Regions from separate parts of the Homo sapiens genome. Here region 2 is linked to region 1. The links come from fine-mapping of genetic effects on plasma protein levels. A gene starts in region 1. The other region holds a variant in brackets. All regions are shown on one strand. Distances are from middle to middle.

Region 1 (11,322 bases):
CCCTTCGTCCTTCTGCTGGGCCCCAGAGGGGCCACCTTCCTTAACACTACTAAGAGGTACACCCGCAGTGGGGTGGTGACTTGGTTTTGGTCACCACCAGAGCAGGCTATTGAAAGTTACTATAGAGGTGTCACCTTGATGGCCACCAAGATGACAAGCTGCCCCTCCTTCACCACCTCGGCAACATGCCTCTGTCCTTGCAGCCCGGAGAGGGCTGTGGTCACTCCTGAGTCGCCCTTACCCAAAGGTGCCATGTGGAGCCCCAGTTTTACAGCTCTTTGTTGCTTTAAGCAAAATTTTAAAATGTTTGATCCGGGATTTCAGTCATTTTCAAGGACAGTGTAACTCAGATGACTCGGTTTGCCCTGTTTTGGGAACAACCCTCAGGCTCATTTTATAGATGTGAAAACTGAGGCTCAGAAAATTGTCTGCAGGCACACAAGCCCTAGAGGCAGGCTGCAGGTGGCCCACAGAACCCTAGGGGCAGACTGTTCAGCGGCACACAGAGCCCTAGAGGCGGGCTGCAGGTGGCGCACAGAGCCCTAGAGGCGGGCTGTAGGTGGCACTCAGTGCGTCCAATGTGGCTCCATCCCCTCCTGCTGCCTCTCAAGAGCAAAGTGGGGAAGGATGAAGGTGAGGTCCCCTGCACTCAGCCCTGGGGCCTCTACCTCCCACCAGGCTCAGCTGTCTGCTGGGAGGAGCTGAGGCCAGTTCCGAAGTCACTGGGGAGTGAGGCAAGCTGCTCCGCCAGGGCCTGCTGGATGCCAGGTGCTGGGACCCTGAGCTGGAGCCTCCCCCAGGCATCGATCCTGGGCCTTCTTTACCACCACACTGGGTCTCCCCGGGCCAGTCCAGCCCTGCTCCAGATGCCAGGCCCACCAGCCTGGGGGGCTCTGGGTGGCCAGGACCCTCTAAGTTACACCCTCTCGGAAGCTGCCCCAGATCACACTCAGCTCTGTGTGGCCTGGGCTCTCCTGCCCTCCACACCCAAGGCTTCGTGAGCTCAGAGCATGGCGATTGTGGGGACAGGGGATTTGTCATCCTGGCTCCCATCAGGGCAGCTGGGATCTTGACAGGGTGTCAAGAGGGGTGGATGGAGTGTGAGGCTGAGCCCCCAGTGGGCCGGGGCTCCCTATGAGCCCCCTCCAGGGGCCACTCCTCCTGGCACCTGGAGCCTCAGCAAAGGGAGGGCAGAGACTGCCATTAGGGGGCCATGCCATGCCATCAACTCCTGTATCCGGCCCAGCCCTGGGGGCAGCTGTCACCGGCTCCATTTTGCAGGTGTGGACTGAAGCTCTAGGGGTTGGGTGACTTGACTGAGTCCTTGGCAGGTGGTGGGAGAGGGAGTCAGCAGAGGAGCCTGTCGGCCTGGGTCTGTTCCTTCCTTGCTTGGGGTAGGGGTCTCAGGGACCCCCATGCTGCTTTATGAGTCCCAGGCCATGGTCTTTGTTGGAAGGCCCCCCCAACCCCCACAGAGGCTGGGATCCTGCTGACTCGGTGTGGTACCTCTCAGGAAGGAAGGGCCTCCGTGGCAGACCTAGCTATTTTGGGGGCTGCTGGGGGCCAGGGTGCTTCCTGCCACAAGGTGCTGGGCCCCCAAGTTTAGGGAGAACAGCAGTAGGGGTGCTGGAAAGTTTCACTTCCCTTGGCTGGGGTCCAGCTTCTGCATTTCAGTGAGTGTTTATGGAACAGAACGGGGTCCAGGAACCCTCAGAAACAGCAGCCCCCAGTCCTGGCAGTGTGTGCGCGTGTGTGCATGTGTGTGCATGCATGTGTGCATCTGTACATGTGTGCGTGTGCATGAGAGCATGTGTGTGCGTGTGTGCACTCACATGTGTACGTGACAGCATGCGTGTGTGCGTGCGTGTGTACATGTGTGTGCATGTGCATGAGTATTGTGTGCATGTGTGCATGTATGTGTACATGTGTGCGTGTGTGCATGAGAGCATGTGTGCGTGTGTGCGCATGTGTGACAGCATGCATGTGTGCGTGTGTACGTGTGTGCATGTGCATGAGAGTATTGTGTGCATGTGTGCATGCATGTGTGTGTACATGTGTGCGTGTGTGCATGAGAGTGTGTGTGCATGTGTGTGCATGTGTGCATGTGCTTGAGAGCGTGTGTGCGTGCATGTGCGTGAGCATGTGTGCGTGTGTGTGTGTTGTGTGCACACGTGTGACCTGGCTCTGGCCCCACCTCCCTGACAGGCTGTGTGACCTGGAGAGATTCAGTGCCCTCTCTGGGCCTTGGCTCCACCCTGTGAAAGTCCTGGCCAAGGGCAGCTGTGGGGAGTGAGGAACAAAGGGCGGGCACAAGCTTGAAAATGGGCACATGGAGACCCCAGCATGAGTGAGGGCAGAGGATGGTGATGTCATGGGCATCATCACGGGGGCCAATTTCCTCACTGCAGTTGGGGAAACTGAGACCCAGAGAGGGGTCAGAGCTGTGGTTCCCCCCTGTGTCAGCATCCAATTAGATCATGCCTCCCAGCATCACCTCATTGCAAGATGCAATCAGATCACGCCTCATTACCCTATGCTTATAAAACCTGCCCCAGCCCTCAGCTCGGGGAGACACTGCTTTGGGAGCTGTCTAGGTGTTCTCCTTACTTGTTGCAAGAAATAAAATCCCCTATTAAATCCTCTTTAGTTAACACCCGCCAAGCAACTGAGCCCACCCGTTGTGTGGGTAACAAAACTCTGGCGACCCAGATGGGGCCGACTGGGATTCTGATCCTAACTTCTTGAGGCTCACTAAGGTAAAGCAGTGGGCCGCGGCACCTTCCCCGGGCGAACTCACCCACGTGGCCCCAGAGGGTTGAGGGTGACTCCCGGGGATCTTCTGCTTGCTGCGTGGCCCGTGGGGCTGTCACTCCGCCCTACCCCCGAAACAGCGGAAGCAGCTGCCTGGAGCTTTTGTTCTGTGCTGCTCCTTCAGGGAAGAAAGTGGACTTTGCCCCGTGGGTTGACTGAAAGGGTAAATTCTTTGGACCTAGCAGTGGGATCTCTAGACTTCAGCGCAGGGCACCTCTGCTTTCGGTTTCTGTCTGGCTCTACGTGCCGTGGGGGATTGAGAGGCATCTCTGGCCAGGCCAAGGGCAACCCGGATCCCGGATCTGGGTAGACAACAGTGGGACTAGTTTTGGGAATTCGTTTTTTTTTTTTTGAGACAGAGTCTGGCTCTGTCACCCAAGCTGGGGTGCAGTGGCGCGATCTCGGCTCACTGCAAGCTCCACCTCCCGGGTTCACGCCATTCTCCTGCCTCAGCTTCCTGAGTAGCTGGGACCACAGGCGCCCGCCACCACGCCCGGCTAATTTTTTGCATTTTTAGTAGAGACGGGGTTTCACCGTGTTAGCCAGGATGGTCTCGATCTCTTGACCTCGTGATCCGCCCGCCTCGGCCTCCCAAAGTGCTGAGATTACAGGCGTGAGCCACCGCGCCCAGCATGAGAATTTGTTCTTTTTTAGAGAAACAGAATTTTTCACAGGAGGCTGAGCTGCTCCATCTCCCAGAGCCCCTACTTGCCATACCCCGGGTTACCAGAAACAGGAGCTCTGCCATTTGATGAAAAAAATACTTTTTTCAGATAAATGTTTTTGTCATATCATCACACAAAGCGGGTAAAGTTGTATATATATACATACAACTTTTTACAAATATGTGATCATATGTACAAAGGCTAGAAGGAAATATACAGAAAAATATGTATTAAAATACTGGTTTTTTTTCATTGTTTTATAAGATACTCTACAAAACATTACAATGAGGTAGGACTATTTTAGTGCTAGAGAATCTCATTAAATGAATTTGTTCAAGAGCTTCTTTGTCAGCTGGGTGCAGTGGCTCACACCTGTAACCCCAACACTTTGGGAGGCCAAGGGGGGCAGATTGCTTGAGCCTAGGTGTTCAAGACCAGCCTGGGCAACATAGGGAGACCCTGTCTCTACCAAAAAAAAAAAAAAAATTAGGGTGGGCGCGGTGGCTCACACCTATAATCCCAGCACTTTGGGAGGCTGAGGCGAGTGGATCACCTGATGTCAGGAGTGTAAGACCAGCCTGGGCAACATGGCAAAACCCCGTCTGTACTAAAAATACAAAATTTATCCAGGCATGGTGGTGGGTGCCTGTAATCCCAGCTACTTGGGAGGCTGAGGCATGAGGCAGAGGTTGCAGTGAGCCGAGATCATGCCATTGCACTACAGCCTGGGCGACAAGAGCGAAACTCTGTCTCAAAAAAAAAAAAAAAAAAAAATTAGCCAGGTGGTGGCACACACAGCTGTGGCCCCAGCTACTCAGGAGGCTGAGGCGGGAGAATCACTTGAGCACGGGGAGTTGGAGGTAATCGTACCGTGAGTACAGTGAGCCGTTATCGTATGGCTGCATTCCAGGCTAGACAACACAGTGAGACCTTGTCTCAAAAGAAAATAAATAAATAAATAAATAAATAAATAAATAAATAAATAAATAAAGAGCTTCTTTGTCAATATCCTTTTGTGGGTATACATCATAGTCCCACAGTACTTCTTCAACCCAGGGAGATAAATGTGTATTAGTCTGAAGACCCAGGAGAGAATCTTCAAGACTTGGCACTGTCACTGATGATGATCTGCTTCCTTACATTATGACAAATGTATTCCCAGCTCCGGCTTGTTCTGCCTCATTAAGAGAATATTTGAAGACATTATTCATGATAGCAGCATCAGCATTTTGCAGAAGAAACCCTGGGGACAGATGTCTGCATGAAGCACCTTTATTCTGTGAATAAACTGGTATTTTTTAATGACCATTTCCTGCAACTGGCAAAAGTCTCCGTTCAGTTCTACTCCACAGGGTTGCACTGCTAAGCTATAAGATCACCCCATAAAGACTGTGCTGAGCCTGGAGCTGACGTCAGCCACAGCCTTTCCTGATTGATCAGGGAGTGCATGAAGATAAATGAACTTCAATTCCATGAGGGAGAAGGAACGAGCAATCGGTCTAAAGGTTCTGTTTGGTGTGAACCACCCAGTAGTTTCTGCTCATTTTCCCTTTGTCACATAATGAATCAATGAAGTCTTTATCACAAAGGAATGCGTCAGCGTGAATGGTGGGTTCTGGCTGCTGCTGTAGTTTTTGAAGGGTTAGATGTTCTGAGGAAAGCATGGTTTCTAGAGGCAAGCAATTCTGAAGGTCTTCTGCAGTGGGTTTTTTTTTTTTTTAATTTTGAGACAAGGTCCGGCTCTGTCACCCAGGCTGGAGTGCAGTGGCTCGACTGTGGCTCACTGCAACCTCCAACTTCCAGGTTCAAGCAGTCCTCCCATCTCAGCCTCCCAAGTAGCTGAAACTACAGGCACGCACCCAGCTAATTTTTTTTTTGAGATGGGGTCTTGCTATGTTGTCCAGTCTGGTCTCAAACTCCTGAGCTCAAGTGATCCACCCCCTTCAGCCTCCTAAAGTGCTGAGATTACAGGCATAAGCCACCACACCCAACCTTTCTGCTGTGTTTTTAAACACAATGTCTTTATTTCCTTCAGTGAATTCATCAAAATCTCGGGCAGTTTGCATCTGCTGGAGCAGTGCCGGGCGGTCGGCAGAGCCACAGTATAGAGCAGTTACAAGATTTCCTGCCTTGCCGAGTGAAATCTATGCCTTCCAATTTTTTTTAATTAATTAATTTTTAAAAAATTAGATTGGTACAAAAGTAATTGCAGTTTTTGCCATTACTTTCAATGGCAAAAACAGCGGTTACTTTTGAACCAACCTAATATTATAGAGACAGGGTTTCACCATCTTACCTAGGTTGGTCTCGAACTCCTAAGCTCAAGTGATCCACCCACCTCGGCCTCCCAAAGCGTGGTGATTATAGGCATGAGCCACCATGCCCGCCCCTCCCCACCAATATATTTTTAAAACTAGTTGAGTGTGGGCCAAGAGTTGTGGGATCTGTGTCACCACCAATCCCGCCTCTAAGCTGCTGGGTGGGTAATATGGGAAAACAGTAATTGTAGCAGGACTCCAGTGGCAGAAGCCATGCGGATAAACTACAAAAAGCAGAAGGGACACTGGGGATGCTGACATCTCCATTGGTTGAGATTACCCTTAAGGTATTGAGCAACTGTGGCCAGGTCCAGGAAGGGCAAAAAAAAAACAAAAAACAAAAAACAAAAAGGCAACACAAGACAAGAAGCCATCGAGTCTCTTGGCTACAACCAGCCAGTACACAAGAAACAGTTCACTGCGGCCAGGCGTGGTGGCTCATGTCCGTAATCCCAGCACTTTGGGAGGCTGAGGCGGGAGGATCACCTGAGGTCAGGAGTTCAAGACCAGCGTGGCCAACATGGCTAACCCTGTCTCTACTAAAAATATAAAAAATTAGCCAGGCATGGTGGTGGGCACTTGTAATCCCAACTACTCGGGAGGCTGAAGCAGGAGAATCGCTTCAACCCAGGAAGCGAAGGTTGTAAGCTGATATCGCGCCATTGCACTCTAGCCTGTGCGACAAGAGCAAAACTCTTTCTTGAAAAAAACAAAAAACAAAAAAACAAAACAGTTCACTGGAGATGATCAGCCATAAGTAAGATCCCTAGGGACCCCACTGCCCGGCCAAAGGGCCTCCCGCCCTTGAGAACACAACAGTGTGCATATTGTAAACAAGAGGGCCATTGGGTACTAGAGTGTCCTAACTGTCCCCAGTGGGTAGGGAAAGAAACTTCCCCGTCAATCAGCCCACCAGATGCTACAGTTTGCTAATAGTGACCAGAAGTGATGGGACTTGGGGACTCCTCTATGATCTGGGAACCCCTAGATCGGGTAACAATTGCTGTGGGAGAGACTCACGGGTTTTCCGACACTAGAGCCAAATTTTTGCCTGTCTCCTTTCTACCGTGTTCTTCCTAAAATTTAGGAAAGGGCTTCTGCTGTATGGGAGAGATAAATTTTAGCTAAAATTGTTAGTTGGACGGAGACAGAGTTGGAACTGTCTTTTAAGTAGTGAATTTTACCTGACCCATGGCTAAACCTTTAAAAGTTAAAGCTATAGGATCGTTATTTGTATCTGGTAGTATGTACACGTCCGGTTATATTTGGCTATGGTACCGAATTGGCTTATAAAGAAATGAGTACTCATAAACTAAGCAAATAAGACCAAGTGCTTTTCAAGTTCACATGACAGTAATCTTTTGGTGAATGGAACTAGTCTAAAATTGTTGGTTTGATGGGAATGGTGTGCCTTCTGAAATGTAACTTAAAGGTTCTTACTTTTTTTTTTTTTTTTTTGAGACGGAGTCTCGCTCTGTCGCCCAGGCTGGAGTGCAGTGGCGTGATCTCGGCTCACTGCAAGCTCTGCCTCCCGGGTTCACGCCATTCTCCTTCCTCAGCCTCCCGAGTAGCTGGGACTACAGGCGCCTGCCACCACGCCCGGCTAATTTTTTGTATTTTTTTTTTTTTTTTAGTAGAGATGGGGTTTCACTGTGTTAGCCAGGATGGTCTTGATCTCCTGACCTCGTGATCTGCCCACCTCGGCCTCCTAAAGTGCTGGGATTACAGGCGTGAGCCACAGCATCCGGCCTTAAAGGTTCTTACTTTTATGATAGTTGCCTGACATCCAGCTATATAAAGGTAATTAACAGATAAATAATTTGAAATGATGACTAGCTTTGTCTAATATATCAGTTCTCATAAGTAATCCTGGTAAACTGCTAAAAATAAATAAAGTATGTAAAGGTAAATGGGATAAGTATCTATCGGCTTTTTAATGTAATTTGAAATCCTCTATTAGGTAATGGATACTCATTAACTATGTGAGTTATTTCCAAATAAGACAAAAACTGGAACAAATTGCTGACCATAAATATGTTTGCCCTGGGTCTCTTAAATTTAATATAAAGACTAAATATGTTTGGGCCTATAAATACGTATAAAAATTATGCTATAGGAAAACATGTTTTTCTAACAATTACAAAATGGCTCTTCCCCATAAAATACCAATATGTGATAGGAAGTTCAAGATTTTGTGCTTCCTATGTTTTCAACAAAATTTAAGGGAACTGGATGGGCACTGTGGCTCATGCCTGTAATTCCAGCACTTTGGGAAGCTGAAGCAGGAGGATCGTTTGAGATCAGGAGGTTCAGACCAGCCTGGGCAACATAGTGAAACTCTGTCTCTACTGAAAAACAAAAAAGAAAAAATTAGCCAGGGGTGGTGGCACATGCCTACTGTAGTCCCAGCTACTCAGGAGGCTGAGGTGGGAGGATCACTTGAGCCAGGGAGGTCAAGGCTCCAGTAAGCCAAAATCAATGCCACTGCACTCCAGCCTGGGTGATGGAGCACGACCTTGTTTCAAAAAAAGAAAAAAGATAATTAAAAACAAAAATTTAAGAGTACTAAGGGTTTTTAAAAATCCTAATATACAATTCTATATAGGAAGTGTGCCAAAAGTAAGGAGCACTTAATAAGAAAACAGTAAGAAAGGTATACAATATATTCTTTATTGAGAAAAAAAGTAATTTGTCTAATTTAGCTGTTATTTAAAGGGAGTTTTAAAATATGGATTTAGGAAAGAAATAGAAAAAAGATTAAAAGGAACCAGTAAGTAGATGAGACAGAGATGTAAAGAAAATTACAGATGTGAAGCAATGAGAGTAATTTTGTATAGGAAAGAAACTTGTGTGTTCAATCTCTGTCTTGGACTAAAATGACTAGACATTTAAGAAAGAGGAAGTACAGGGCAAGTCCAAGCATGCCACAGCTGTCTGAGTAAGTCATGATAAGGCTTGTGAATGGGAACTTATGATGGAAATGTTGGGTGTGATTAAATTGGCTGTAATTAAATGAAATGATTTGTAATAGTTTTTTTTTTTTTTGAGATGGAGTCTGGCTGTCTTGCTCATTTGCCAAGGCTGGAGTGCAGTGGTTCGATCTTGCCACACTGCAACTTGCATCTCCTGGGTTCAAGTGAGTCTCCTGCCTCAGCCTCCTGAGTAGCTGGGATTACAGGCGTGCACTACCATGCCTGGCTAATTTTCGTATATTCAGTAGAGATGGGGTTTCACCATGTTGGCCAGGCTGGTCTTGAACTCCTGACTTCAGGTGATCCTGGCCTCCCAACGTGCTGGGATTACAGGCATGAGCCACCATGCCTGGCCTGTAACAGTTTTTCTAGAGAATGAATTTGAATGTTAAAACACATGATACATAACTTACAATTTTGGTCCCCTGTGTTAAAACAACAGTGGTTTCGGCTGAGCGCAGTGGCTCATGCCTGTAATCCAGGCACTTTGGGAGGCCGAGGCAGGTGGATCATGAGGTCAGGAGATTTGAGACCAACCTGGCTAACATGGTGAAACCCCGTCTCTACTAAAAATACAAAATATTACCCAGGCTTGGGGGCGTGCACCTGCAGTCCCAGCTACTCAGGAGGCTGAGGCAGGAGAATGGCGTGAACCCAGGAGACGGAGCTTGCAGTGAGCCGAGATCACACCACTGCACTTCAGCTTGGGTGACAGAACGAGACTCCGTCTTAAAAACAAACAAACAAAAAACAGCAGTTTCTTAAGACATTAATTCACTCTTAGTAAAGTTCCAAGAGGTTTTGATATTTATTTCTAAAACCTGCTTCGTTAATAGCCATTCTCTGAATTACAAATTAGTTTCTGTTTCTGTCATATTCCTTCTTAAGATCAGTCTAATTTCTTTGGTTTCAGGTTTATCTCAAAGGTCTAGAAAAGCAGCTTTACGCCAGTATAAACTGATTCTGTGTTCTTGGTTTTTCTTAATGTGTCTGAGTTGTTTCATGTAACCAGGACTTCCCATGGTATTACTAATGTATTCCCCTGCTCACCAGCCTAGGAAACACAGATTGCTTAGGGAGACTGAGCTTTAAAGTGTTAAGGTTTTTCCATGCATGTAACTTTTCGTGTTGCTTTTGAATTCTTTTGATTGTCACTGTGGTTAAACGAGTAACTATTATTCGGCAGTGATCTCTGATTCTGTTGAAGGAAGCCATTTGAACTTTTTGACATCCTCTTTGGCAGAATTCCCCAGGATCCAAATCCTAAATTAAGCCATCTGGCCTAAAATCAACTTTGAGATTCTACCAAAAGGGCCTCCTGGAACAAGCCTCAAAGGTTTTGTCTCTGATCTTTTGGAGATATTAAATGATCAGGCTTACTTGGTAAATAATATGGGAAGCATTGTCAAATAGAAACGGTGTTTAACTTCCTTTAAGTAATGTTTGTGTAAGTGTGTCACTAACACAGGGGAAAAGGTTTGAGATTCCTAAAACTCTGATATGCCAAGATATGTGTCATGACTGTGATGGTTGTGTCACATGGTTGTATGCCAGAGAAATGCTGAAATTTCTGGCCGGGCACGGTGGCTCACATCTGTAATCCCAGCACTTTGGGAGGCCGAGGCGGGTGGATCACGAGGTTAGGAGATTGAGACCATCCTGGCTAACATGGTGAAACCCTGTCTTTACTAAAAATATAAAAAATTAGCCGGGCATGGTGGTGGGCACCTGTAGTCCCAGCTACTCGGTAGGCTGAGACAGGAGAATGGTGTGAACCTGGGAGGCGGAGCTTGCAGTGAGCTGAGAATGCGCCACTGCACTCCAGCCTGGGTGACAGAGTGAGACTCCGTCTCAAAAAGAAAAAGGAAAAAAAAAGAAATGCTGAAATTTCCTGTCAATTGTAAATTGTCATCAGATCTCTGACTGGCTGCTCTGGGCTTTTGTCACCCACAGTTAATTCTTATTTTTCAGTCAGGGTCTCACTCTATTGCCCAGGCTGGAGTACAGTGGCGTGATCACAGCTCACTTCAGCCTTAACCTCCCAGGCTCAAGTGATCCTCCCACCTCAGCTTCCTGAGTAGCTGGGACTACAGGGGTGCTCCACTGTGCCCAGCTAATTGTCTTTATTTTTTTATAAGGACAAGGTCTCATGTTTCCCAGGCTGGTCTCAAACTCCTGAGCTCAAGTGATTCTCCCGTCTTGGCTTCCCAAAATGCTGGGATTATAGGCGTGAGCCACCATGCCCTGCCACCCACAGTTGTTTTAAATTCTTCTCTGGAAGCATTCACAATTGGCTATGGTCCAAAATTGCTAATTAAGATTGAGCAAAACTGGCCAGGTGCAGTGGCTCACGCTTGTTGTAGGGTCCAGCCCTACAGGATATGTGGGTTTTTTCTCTTCATGTGTGGAGATGAGAGATGGTAGAAATAAATACACAAGACAAAGAGATAGAAGAAAACACAGCTGGGCCCAGGGGACCACTACCACCAAGGTGTGGAGACCGGTAGTGGCCCCAAATGCCTGACCGCACTGTTATTTATTGGATACAAGGTAAAA
Region 2 (11,322 bases), 63 kb before region 1:
GCTCCCCAAGTTCCAGGACGGAGACCTCACCCTGTACCAGTCCAATACCATCCTGCGTCACCTGGGCCGCACCCTTGGTGAGTCTTGAACCTCCAAGTCCAGGGCAGGCATGGGCAAGCCTCTGCCCCCGGAGCCCTTTTGTTTAAATCAGCTGCCCCGCAGCCCTCTGGAGTGGAGGAAACTGAGACCCACTGAGGTTACGTAGTTTGCCCAAGGTCAAGCCTGGGTGCCTGCAATCCTTGCCCTGTGCCAGGCTGCCTCCCAGGTGTCAGGTGAGCTCTGAGCACCTGCTGTGTGGCAGTCTCTCATCCTTCCACGCACATCCTCTTCCCCTCCTCCCAGGCTGGGGCTCACAGACAGCCCCCTGGTTGGCCCATCCCCAGTGACTGTGTGTTGATCAGGCGCCCAGTCACGCGGCCTGCTCCCCTCCACCCAACCCCAGGGCTCTATGGGAAGGACCAGCAGGAGGCAGCCCTGGTGGACATGGTGAATGACGGCGTGGAGGACCTCCGCTGCAAATACATCTCCCTCATCTACACCAACTATGTGAGCATCTGCACCAGGGTTGGGCACTGGGGGCTGAACAAAGAAAGGGGCTTCTTGTGCCCTCACCCCCCTTACCCCTCAGGTGGCTTGGGCTGACCCCTTCTTGGGTCAGGGTGCAGGGGCTGGGTCAGCTCTGGGCCAGGGGCCCAGGGGCCTGGGACAAGACACAACCTGCACCCTTATTGCCTGGGACATCAACCAGCCAAGTAACGGGTCATGGGGGCGAGTGCAAGGACAGAGACCTCCAGCAACTGGTGGTTTCTGATCTCCTGGGGTGGCGAGGGCTTCCTGGAGTAGCCAGAGGTGGAGGAGGATTTGTCGCCAGTTTCTGGATGGAGGTGCTGGCACTTTTAGCTGAGGAAAATATGCAGACACAGAGCACATTTGGGGACCTGGGACCAGTTCAGCAGAGGCAGCGTGTGTGCGCGTGCGTGTGCATGTGTGTGCGTGTGTGTGTGTACGCTTGCATTTGTGTCGGGTGGGTAAGGAGATAGAGATGGGCGGGCAGTAGGCCCAGGTCCCGAAGGCCTTGAACCCACTGGTTTGGAGTCTCCTAAGGGCAATGGGGGCCATTGAGAAGTCTGAACAGGGCTGTGTCTGAATGTGAGGTCTAGAAGGATCCTCCAGAGAAGCCAGCTCTAAAGCTTTTGCAATCATCTGGTGAGAGAACCCAGCAAGGATGGACAGGCAGAATGGAATAGAGATGAGTTGGCAGCTGAAGTGGACAGGATTTGGTACTAGCCTGGTTGTGGGGAGCAAGCAGAGGAGAATCTGGGACTCTGGTGTCTGGCCTGGGGCAGACGGGGGTGTCTCAGGGGCTGGGAGGGATGAGAGTAGGATGATACATGGTGGTGTCTGGCAGGAGGCGGGCAAGGATGACTATGTGAAGGCACTGCCCGGGCAACTGAAGCCTTTTGAGACCCTGCTGTCCCAGAACCAGGGAGGCAAGACCTTCATTGTGGGAGACCAGGTGAGCATCTGGCCCCATGCTGTTCCTTCCTCGCCACCCTCTGCTTCCAGATGGACACAGGTGTGAGCCATTTGTTTAGCAAAGCAGAGCAGACCTAGGGGATGGGCTTAGGCCCTCTGCCCCCAATTCCTCCAGCCTGCTCCCGCTGGCTGAGTCCCTGGCCCCCCTGCCCTGCAGATCTCCTTCGCTGACTACAACCTGCTGGACTTGCTGCTGATCCATGAGGTCCTAGCCCCTGGCTGCCTGGATGCGTTCCCCCTGCTCTCAGCATATGTGGGGCGCCTCAGTGCCCGGCCCAAGCTCAAGGCCTTCCTGGCCTCCCCTGAGTACGTGAACCTCCCCATCAATGGCAACGGGAAACAGTGAGGGTTGGGGGGACTCTGAGCGGGAGGCAGAGTTTGCCTTCCTTTCTCCAGGACCAATAAAATTTCTAAGAGAGCTACTATGAGCACTGTGTTTCCTGGGACGGGGCTTAGGGGTTCTCAGCCTCGAGGTCGGTGGGAGGGCAGAGCAGAGGACTAGAAAACAGCTCCTCCAGCACAGTCAGTGGCTTCCTGGAGCCCTCAGCCTGGCTGTGTTTACTGAACCTCACAAACTAGAAGAGGAAGAAAAAAAAAGAGAGAGAGAAACAAAGAGAAATAACCATGGTCACTGTCCTGGAGCACCACACAGTGTATATAGAAGGAGAAAAGTCTCATAGAAACATGCTTTCTAGGCACAGCACGTGCCTGTCAGATGGACAGACTCCAGGATGGAGGGAAATGAGGGATTCTGGGAAGGAGGGATGTGAGGAGTTCCCTGTCCTGGGGGATTAGCTGAGTAGCTCTGAGCAGCCCAGGTTGGTGGGAGGGTCATTCTGCTTGGATGGGGGCTTTCCTGGCTTCCTGCTGACTTGTGAGTTTTGGTGCATCCTAGGCAAGCAATGACACTACTGTATTAGGATTCTCCAGAGAAGCTAAGCCAGTAAGATGCTGTAGGGCAGGCAAAATTTTATCTCTGTCCTTTTAGGGTTTTTTGGCTGGGCCTGAGAACTAAAGACATGAGCAAGAGAAAAGCATTCAAATTTATCTAGGCTGGGCATAGTGGCTCATGCCTGTAATCCCAGCACTTTGGGAGGCTGAGGCAGGTGAATCACTTGAGGTCAGGAGTTCAAGACCAGCCTGACCAACATGGTGAAACCCCGTCTCTACTAAAAATACAAAAATTAGCCAGGTGTGGTGGCGGTTACCTGTAGTCCCTGCTACTTGGGAGGCTGAGGCATGAGAATCGCTCTCTCTCTCCTGCCACCTTGTAAAGATGTGCCTGCTTCCCCTTCACCTTCCACCCTGATTGTAAGTTTCCTGAGGCTTCCCAGTCATGCTTCCTGTTAAGCCTGCAAAACTGTGAGTCAATTAAACCTCTTTTCTTCATAAATTACTCAGTCTCTGATAGGTCTTTGTAGCAGTGTGAGAATGGACTAATACACTGTTTTTGTTTTGTTTTGTTTTGTTTTGTTTTTGAGATGGAGTCTCACTCTGGTGCCTAGGCTGGAGTATAGTGGTGTAATCTCTGCTCACTGTAACCTCTGCCTCTCAGACTCAAGCAATTCTCCTGCCTCAGCCTCCTGAGTAGCTGGGATTACAGGTGCCCACCACCGCGCCTGGCTAATTTTTGTATTTTTAGTAGAGATGGGCTTTCATCATGTTGGCCAGGCTGGTTTCGGACTTTTAACCTCACGTGATCCACTCGCCTTGGGCTCCCAAAGTGCTGGGATTACAGGCGTGAGCCACCGCACCCAGCCTAATACGCTATATTAATCAGAAACTGCCAACTAACCTCTAACTTGGGACTTTTCACTCTAACCAGTCAAAATTGTTTTCTTTGTCTGGCTTCTGCAAAATGATTAAGTTTCACTTCCCCTCTAATAGAAGCACTAGCTGCTTTGGTCTTGTGCTATCTTAATTTATGTGTCACTGAATGCTCAAATAAACTCTTTAGAATGTAAATGGGCTTAAGTTTATCTTCTAGCAGATCTGATGTCAGAGGTAGGATCCTTCAGAAGGACATCAGAAGGATCTGAAGGATTTCTCCCCATCCTGGGCCCAGTGATGGTCTCCAGGAGCAATGAGCAAACA[G/A]GTGTAGGCATTTCACTGAGCCCCCTGCACGCTGCTTCCTGCAGCATATTTGAAGGTCATCACTGGTAAGTCCCACTCAGATACTGTATTAGTCCCTTCTCACACTGCTATAAAGAACTACCTGAGACTGGGTAATTTATAAAGAAAAGAGGCTAAGCCAGGTGTGGTGGCTCATACCTGTAATCCCAACACTTTGGTTTTTTTTCTGGTTGTTGTTGTTGTTGTTTTTTGAGTCAGAGTCTCACTCTGTCGCCCAGGCTGGAGTGCAGTGGCACAATCTCAGCTCACTGCAACCTCCACTTTCTGGGTTCAAGTGATTCTCCTGCCTCTGCCTCCCAAGTAGCTAGGATTACAGGCACATGCCACCATGCCTGGCTAATTTTTGTATTTTTAGTAGAGACAGGGTTTCACCATGTTGGCCAGGCTGGTGTCAAAACTCCTGATCTCAGGTGATCCACTCGCCTCGGCCTCTCAAAGTGCTGGGATTACAGGCGTAAGCCACTGCACCCAGCCAATCCCAGCACTTCAGGAGGCTGAGGCGAGCAGATCACTTGAGGTCAGGAGTTGGAGACCAGCCTGGCCAACATGGTGAAAACCCCATTTCTACTAAAAATATTTAAAAAATCAGCTGGGCATGGTGGCACGTGCCTGTAATCACAGCTACTCGGGAGGCTGAGGTAGGAGAATCCCTTGAACCCGGGAGGCAGAGGCTGCAGTGAGCTGAGATGACGCCTCTGCACTCCAGCCTGGGTGACAGAAGATTGATTGACTCACAGTTCTGCATGGCTGGGGAGGCCTCAGGAAACCTACAATCGTGGCAGAAGGCGAATGGGAAGCAAGGCACATCTTACATGGTGGCAGGGGAGGTAAGGGGGGAAGTTCCACATCCTTTTATACCAACAGAGCACGTGACAACTCACTGTCACGAGAATAGCAAGGGGGAAATTCGCCCCCATGATCCTATCACCTCCCACTAAGTCCCTCCCTCACCACGTGGAGATTACAATTCAAGATGAGATTTGGGTGGGGACACAGCCAAACCATATCACATACAAACTCCAGAACTTAAATCGAGTTCTCTGAGTTGAGCCGATCTGGACTGGGTTTGGAAGTTGTGGTAGAAGTTTAACGCATCCTGTAGGGAGGCTTCAGGTATCTGACTGGGTCAGACAGAAACTGAAATGGTTTTAGTGAAAGACCTCTAATAGGTAAGGTTCCAGGAAAACAAACAATTCTGGGCTCATTTAAATCCAGGGGGTCTGGGACTCCATCGCAGGACTTGTGCTCTTCTAGAGAGATGATTGAATCTTACCAAAAATAATTTAGAATTTTGGTGGCCACAGTGGGGAAGTTTTAACCTAAATAAAACTGCTCATCTCCAGAATGCATTGAAAAAAAAGAGGGGGGATCCCAAACACCCCAGAAATAATGGGTTGTATTTTTGGTTGGCAAGCAGAGGGTTCTAAGTTCTCCATCTTTCTCACTAGCCTCCTCTGAATCTGCTGACTTCTTTGCTTGGTTACCTTCCCACCTTGACGATGCAATGAAAAAAAACCCAGCTAGATAAGTTATACAAGTTAGGCTGTCAAATCAACCATGTCTGCTTCTTTACCCTTATGCCATAGTTAAAATCTTAAGCTCAGAGCAATAATAAAAGGTATCCCTGTCCGGCATAGAAAATGCTTTGTCTGCCCTATTTGTTAATGGGCTCCACCCTGACCTCAGTAATCTAGTTACACATATGTTGACAGGACCTGAGGAAGCTCAAAATTGGATGCAAGAGGCAGAATGGTATTGCTCTGAGGACAATATCCAAGGTCCACAAGCCCCTACTTGGTCCATATATAGGCCAGAAGAAACCCAAACTTTTGACCGGGTGCAGTGGCTCACGCCTGTAATCCCAGCACTTTGGGAGGCCGAGGAGGGTGGATCACGAGGTCAGGAGGTCAAGACCATCCTGGCTAACATGGTGAAACCCTGTCTCTACTAAAAATACAAAAAAATTAGCCGGGTGTGGTGGCAGGCACCTGTAGTCCCAGCTGCTTGGGAGGCTGAGGCAGGAGAATGGCGTGAACCTGGGAGGTGGAGCTTACAGTGAGCCGAGATTGCACCACTGCACTCCAGCCTGGGTGACAAAGCGAGACTCCGTCTCAAAAAAAAAATCGATGCCTGATAGCATTTTAATTTATCAGTTAGTCTGGAAACTACACGAGAAGAAAGAACAAAATACCCTTAAACAACTACCCCCGGCAGGGAGACTCATTTTCCTGTCTCTCCTGGCCTGATACGTTTTGCATAGCTCGCATTCTTCACACTGCTCTAAGCTACTTTTCTTTCTCATTTCCCTCTTTTGATAGATATTTTTCTCTTCTGAAAGCATTGATGATCGACATTTTTTTTATGCATATGATTTTTGTTCACTGTCACGTAAGATTCAGGAATCAATGTGTTAGATGCAAGTTTGTCCCATGTCACTGGGAAGGCTTATTCCCAGGCCATCTGTCCTACTTCAGAGAGAAAGAGGAGAGGTACCTATGGTTAAAGAATTTAGTGAAGGTGCCGGGCACGGTGGCTCACGCCTGTAATCCCAGCACTTTGGGAGGCCGAGGCGGGTGGATCACCTGAGGTCGGGAGTTCGAGACCAGCCTGGCCAACATGGTGAAACCCGTCTCTACTAAAAATACAAACATTACCCGGGCGTGGTGGTGCACGCTTATAATCCCAGCTACTCAGGAGGCTGAGGCAGGAGAATCGCTTGAACCTGGGAAGCAGAGGTTGCAGTGAGCCAAGATCGCACCATTGCACTCCAGCCTGGGCAACAAGAGCAAGACTTCATTTCAAAAAAAAAAAAAAAAAAAAAGAATTTAGTGAAGTCTCAAGGTCAAATTGATTAGAACCACAGAGGGACAAAGCAATGGGAACTCAGTCGAGCCATCCGCTTACAAAGGAGCCGTGACATGTGAGAGCATTTCTAAGCATCTAGCTATCATGATTTTATTTTTTGTTGTTGACTTAAGACATCTAGAAATGCAAAGCATAATCAATTTAAGAATAAAAACTACTGGCCGGGCACAGTTGCTCACACCTGTAATCCCAGCACTTTGGGAGGCTGAGGTGGGAGGCTGAGTTGGGCAGATCACTTGAGGTTAGGAGTTCGAGACCAGCCTGGCCAACATGGTGAAACCTGTCTCTACTAAAAACACAAAAATTAGCCAGGTGTGGTGGCAGACACCTGTAATCCCAGCTACTCAGGAGGCCGAGGCAGGAGATTCGCTTGAACCCTGGAGGCGGAGCTTGCAGTGAGCTGAGATGGCGCCACTGCACTCCAGCCTAGGCGACAAGAGTGAAACTGTATCAAAAAAAAAATATGATGCAAATAAAGACAGTTATTAACAAAACAAGTTGAAATCCAGATCTGAAAAGTGTTCTTATTTGTGAAGGTAACAAATCAAATAGATCATGTAATGGGGTTGGCTTTTTGACAGCTTGCAGCCATTTAGCCTTTTGAGTGATCCTTCCAAACCGAGTTTCCACTTCTCATCCAGGTTTGAAGAACAAGGTGACTGGTTGTGGTCAGCTTCGGTGGGAGATCTCTGGTGATGAAAGATGTCCACTCAGGTGGGCTGCCTTTTTAAAGTGAAAAAAAAAATGAGAATCCATGAGTCAATGCCCCTGATGTTAGCTGCACAAAGACTGGTTAACAGTACGTGACATGATCCCTTCCAACATGGTTGGAGGGAGTATTTTATTTGATGATGTTTCCAATAAACAAAATCTCCAGGTTGGAAGCTGTGATCTTTGATGTCTGTCTCCAGGGAGATTGCTTTTTAAAAGAATTCTTCATTAATTAAATTTTTTTTTAATTGAGAAGCTTTATAAAGGCCCTGGCAATCATGAAGTATAGCATTTTTAAGAAGAGCTAGCTCATAGACTTCTGCATTCAGGCACATGGCCTTCCTGTTATTTCAAAGAAAGAAAGCCGATGTTGTTGAAATGGGGTAGAGTGTGAATTAAGCAATACCAATGGGAGACTCTTAGGCCAGAGAAGTTTCAAGTTTCTATAAGCTTGGCCAGGCACGGTGGCTCACACCTGTAATCCCAGCACTTTGGGAGGCCGAGGCAGACGGATCACCTGAGGCCGGGAGTTCGATACCAGCCTGGCCAACATGGCGAAACCCGTCTCTACTAAAAAGTACAAAAATTAGCTGGGCATGGTGGTGGGTGCCTGTAATCCCAGCTACTCAGGAGGCTGAGGCAGGAGAATTGCTTGAACCTGGGAGGCGGAGGTTGCAGTGAGCTGAGATCGCGCCACTGCCCTCTAGCCTGAGCGACAAGAGGGAGACTGTCTCAAAAAAAAAAAAAGTTTCTATAAGCTTTGCCAATTTGATTTTTATTATTTGTGCATTTCACAAGTCTGGAAGACTGAGGGTGGTATGGACAATGGAAATGTTGAAAAATCAGCCATACGTTACAAATAAACTGAATTATTTGACCAGTGAAATGGGTTCATTAGTTTCCATGAAGATTGGAGGGAGCTCTCCAAGAAGGAATAGGGCAAGATTTAAAGTAGTCATGGTCAAAGATGCAATCAACAAAGAAATTTGGTCATTTTATTTTTTTGTGGCCTACTGAAACGGGAAGGGTTCCCTTGTCCCCCTTGCAGGGCATGTGATGGGGGAGTGGCTCGCTTCTTCAGTGCCCCGCTGCTCAGACCTGCAGGGGAGCATACAGATGGGCAGGTTGTGGGGCTCCAACCCACGGCAGCATCTAGGGGTGGATGTTTACAGCTCCTGAAGCCCTAGTGGGCATGTGTTACAGGGTGCTCTTTTAGTTTTGCCATCTATAGGCAGCTTGTGTTAACCAGCAGCTCAATTAGACCCTCTGCTTTGTTACAAGGACAGAGGGATTTCTGTATCCCAGGTTCTTGCCTTGGTGTACTGGAAGAATAGGATCACACCTGGGCTTGGAGAATGAGTGCAAGGTTTTATTGAGTGGAGGTAACTCTCAGCAGTTGGAGGAAGCCAGAAGGGCATGGAGTGGGAAGGTTTTGCCCTGGAGTCAGGCTGCTCAGCGGCCTGGGCTTGCCTTTGACTGCCCGGCCAAACTCCGCCTCGTTCTGCAGGTGGATGGCCTGCCGGCATGCTGGCGTCTGTCGTGTGCTCTTCCACCAGCCTGCTCCCTTCTGTGGCAGATTGGTCAGAGAGGTGGGAAGAACTATAGGGAAAGGACGCAAACCTTCTGAAAGGTGGGAAGGTTCTGCAGAGCCCTGGGGGAGAAGAACTGAAGGCAGCTCTTCTATAACCCTGAGGCAGAGGGCAAGGAGTAGGTACAAGGGAGTATGGGGGATTTTATCTTAAATAGGCATGTTTACTTATGTCGACCAGGAACTGACCTTAGATCATCTATGATCACCTATGATCATGTTTCAGGGAACATGAGGTTCCCTGAAAGGGGAATAATAAATATTAATGACTTACAGATTGTGTCGGCTCCAGGTTTTCGACATTGTGCCTGCACTGAATAAAAGCAAAGCAGCTCCAGCTTCTTCCACTAGAGCCAGGCAGTCACCTAGCTGCTCTTAACACTGCATACCTGTGTCTGGGTACTCATTTCCTCTGTTGGCCAGGGTCTGTGGGACAGAGCTGGCACCCCTCAATGACCTCTCAACGTCCAGCCACTTGTGTCTTCTTCTGCCAATGTGTTCCTCTCCACGTCCAGCTGCTTGTGTGTCTGCTTGCTAGGGTCTCAGGGTTTTTATAGGCACAGGATATGGGTGTGGTGGGCCAGGGTGCTCTTTGGAAATGCAATATTTGGGCAGGAAAACAAAAATGCCTGTCTTCACCCAGGTCCATGGGCACAGGCCTGGGGGTGGAGCCCTAGCCAGGGACTACACATTCCTCTACCCAGCACTTCCCTGCCCCCCTTCCGTATCACTATAATTCAACACAATACTTACAATAATGACTGATAATATATACCAACACATATCAGATTTTTAGGAATCTCATATAATTTTGGAACACATATTAATAACACATTTCACAAATATAACTCAAAGAAAGTTAAATGTCATTTCTTTTTTGACAATGCTTGCTGTGTAATTTTTACATGCCAAATAATACCAAGTTCTCTTGAACTTACATGGGTTTTTTTTTTCTTTTTCAAATGTTGAAACGTTAGTTTGAGGTCAAAATGGCTTAATTTAGAATTTGAATTTTCATTTTTGGAAGTTTGTCAAATACCAAAGCTTTAAAACACTTGATATTAAAATAGAAAAGGTTTAAAAGACTTGTTCAAAATAGAATCATGGGGAACTTCAAAATAATAGTCATTCATTTAGCCAAAGTGATAACTGAAAGATTTCAGAAAAGCTGGGTGTGGTGACTCACATCTGTAATCCCAGCACTTTGGGAAGCCAAGGTGGGAGGATCACCTGAAGTCAGGAGTTCGAGACCAGTCTGGCCAACATGGTGAAACCCTGTCTCCCCTAAAAATACAAAATTAGTTGGGCATGGTGGCAGGTGCCTGTAATCCCCGCTACTCAAGAGGCTAAGGCAGGAGAATCGCTTGAACACGGGGGGTGGGGGGAAGGTTGCATTGAGCCAAGTTCGCACCATTGCACTGTAGCCTGGGCAAAAAGAGCGAAACTCCATCTAAAAAAAAAAAAGATTTCCGAAAGCAAAAACCTTTATTGTTTGATAGAGAGGAGACTCAGTTTTCTAAACAATCCAAAGACCTAATGAAGGAAGCATAAGGCAAACTCGCTCCTCTTTTTTTATTTTTTTCACTTTGCAGTTTGCTCAAAAGGCAAACAAAAATCTTTTACAATCTCTTATTACTACTACATGAAAATCTCGTTTAAAAGAGAAAACTAAATTCTACCTTTACATTAGTGTATTATTAATGCTACAGCTAAAAATATAGTTATAATAAAATCTTGCAAACAGATCCATCTAATCTCAATCACTTTTGACCACTACTCAAGATAAAGTTTCTATATACCTTTTATACTCTTACAATGTTTTCCTTTTTCTTTTCTCTTTTCTTTTCTTTTTTTTTTTTTTTTTTGAGATGGAGTCTCGCTCTGTCACCCAGGCTAGAGTGCAGTGGCACGATCTCTGCTCACTGCAACCTCTGCCTCCCGGGTTCAAGCGATTCTCCTGCCTCAGCCTCTGAAGAAGCTGGGACTACAGGCACCCACCACCATGCTCGGCTAATTTTTGTATTTTTAGCAGAGACAGGGTTTCACCATATTGGCCAGGCTGGTTTCGAACTCCTGACCTTGTGATCTGCCCACCTCGGCCTCCCAAAGTGCTGGGATTACAAGTGTGAGCCACCGTGTCCGGCCACAATGTTTTTCATTGTCTTTCTTTCTCCAGCTTTGTTTATTCATTTGGCTTTATCTATCTCATATATATGATATGATATGATACACACACAGATGCATATATATACGTATGCGTATATATACACACACATACACGAACGTATATAATCATATATATTTCTTAATGGGATATATATATATAATTTTACAGATGGGGTATTGCTCTATTGTCCAGGCTGGAGTGCAGTGGCAAAATCAGAGCTCCTGGGCTCAAGCAATCCTCCTGCCTCAGCCTCCTGAATAGCTGAGACTACAGGCATGAACCACCATGCCCAGCTAATTTAAAAAAATTTATCAGGCCAGGC

Which allele goes with the higher level. Alleles are on the strand shown, and positions count from the first base shown. The strength of an association depends on the size of the effect and on how common the allele is.
For the plasma level of the protein whose gene starts at base 2,945 in region 1, allele A in region 2 goes with a higher level than allele G (moderate association).

What was found. A credible set is the group of variants that fine-mapping cannot tell apart. PIP is the posterior inclusion probability: the model's chance that the variant is causal. The UK Biobank Pharma Proteomics Project read protein levels with antibody pairs (Olink). The fine-mapping took linkage between variants from a reference panel, not from the people measured, so its PIPs are less certain.
Region 2: its variant is the best candidate, but not a certain one, in a credible set for the plasma level of the ACY3 protein (UK Biobank, PIP 0.55).

Annotation. Positions count from the first base shown.
Region 1 is chr11:67,647,786-67,659,107 of GRCh38, forward strand. ACY3 (aminoacylase 3) reads right to left here and starts at 2,945. Exons shown (of 8, transcript NM_080658.2): 1 at 2,798-2,945. RefSeq lists enhancers at 327-406, 817-1,339, 867-1,286, 3,017-3,096, 3,167-3,226.
Region 2 is chr11:67,584,696-67,596,017 of GRCh38, forward strand. It overlaps GSTP1 (glutathione S-transferase pi 1), which reads left to right. Exons shown (of 7, transcript NM_000852.4): 4 at 1-77; 5 at 443-546; 6 at 1,409-1,516; 7 at 1,694-1,958. The coding sequence ends at 1,882. Among named protein-coding and RNA genes, the nearest start is that of GSTP1, 6.5 kb to the left of the region's middle. RefSeq lists enhancers at 1,996-2,065, 3,429-3,718 and a silencer at 3,360-3,560. The variant G/A (reference allele first, on the strand shown) is at 3,631.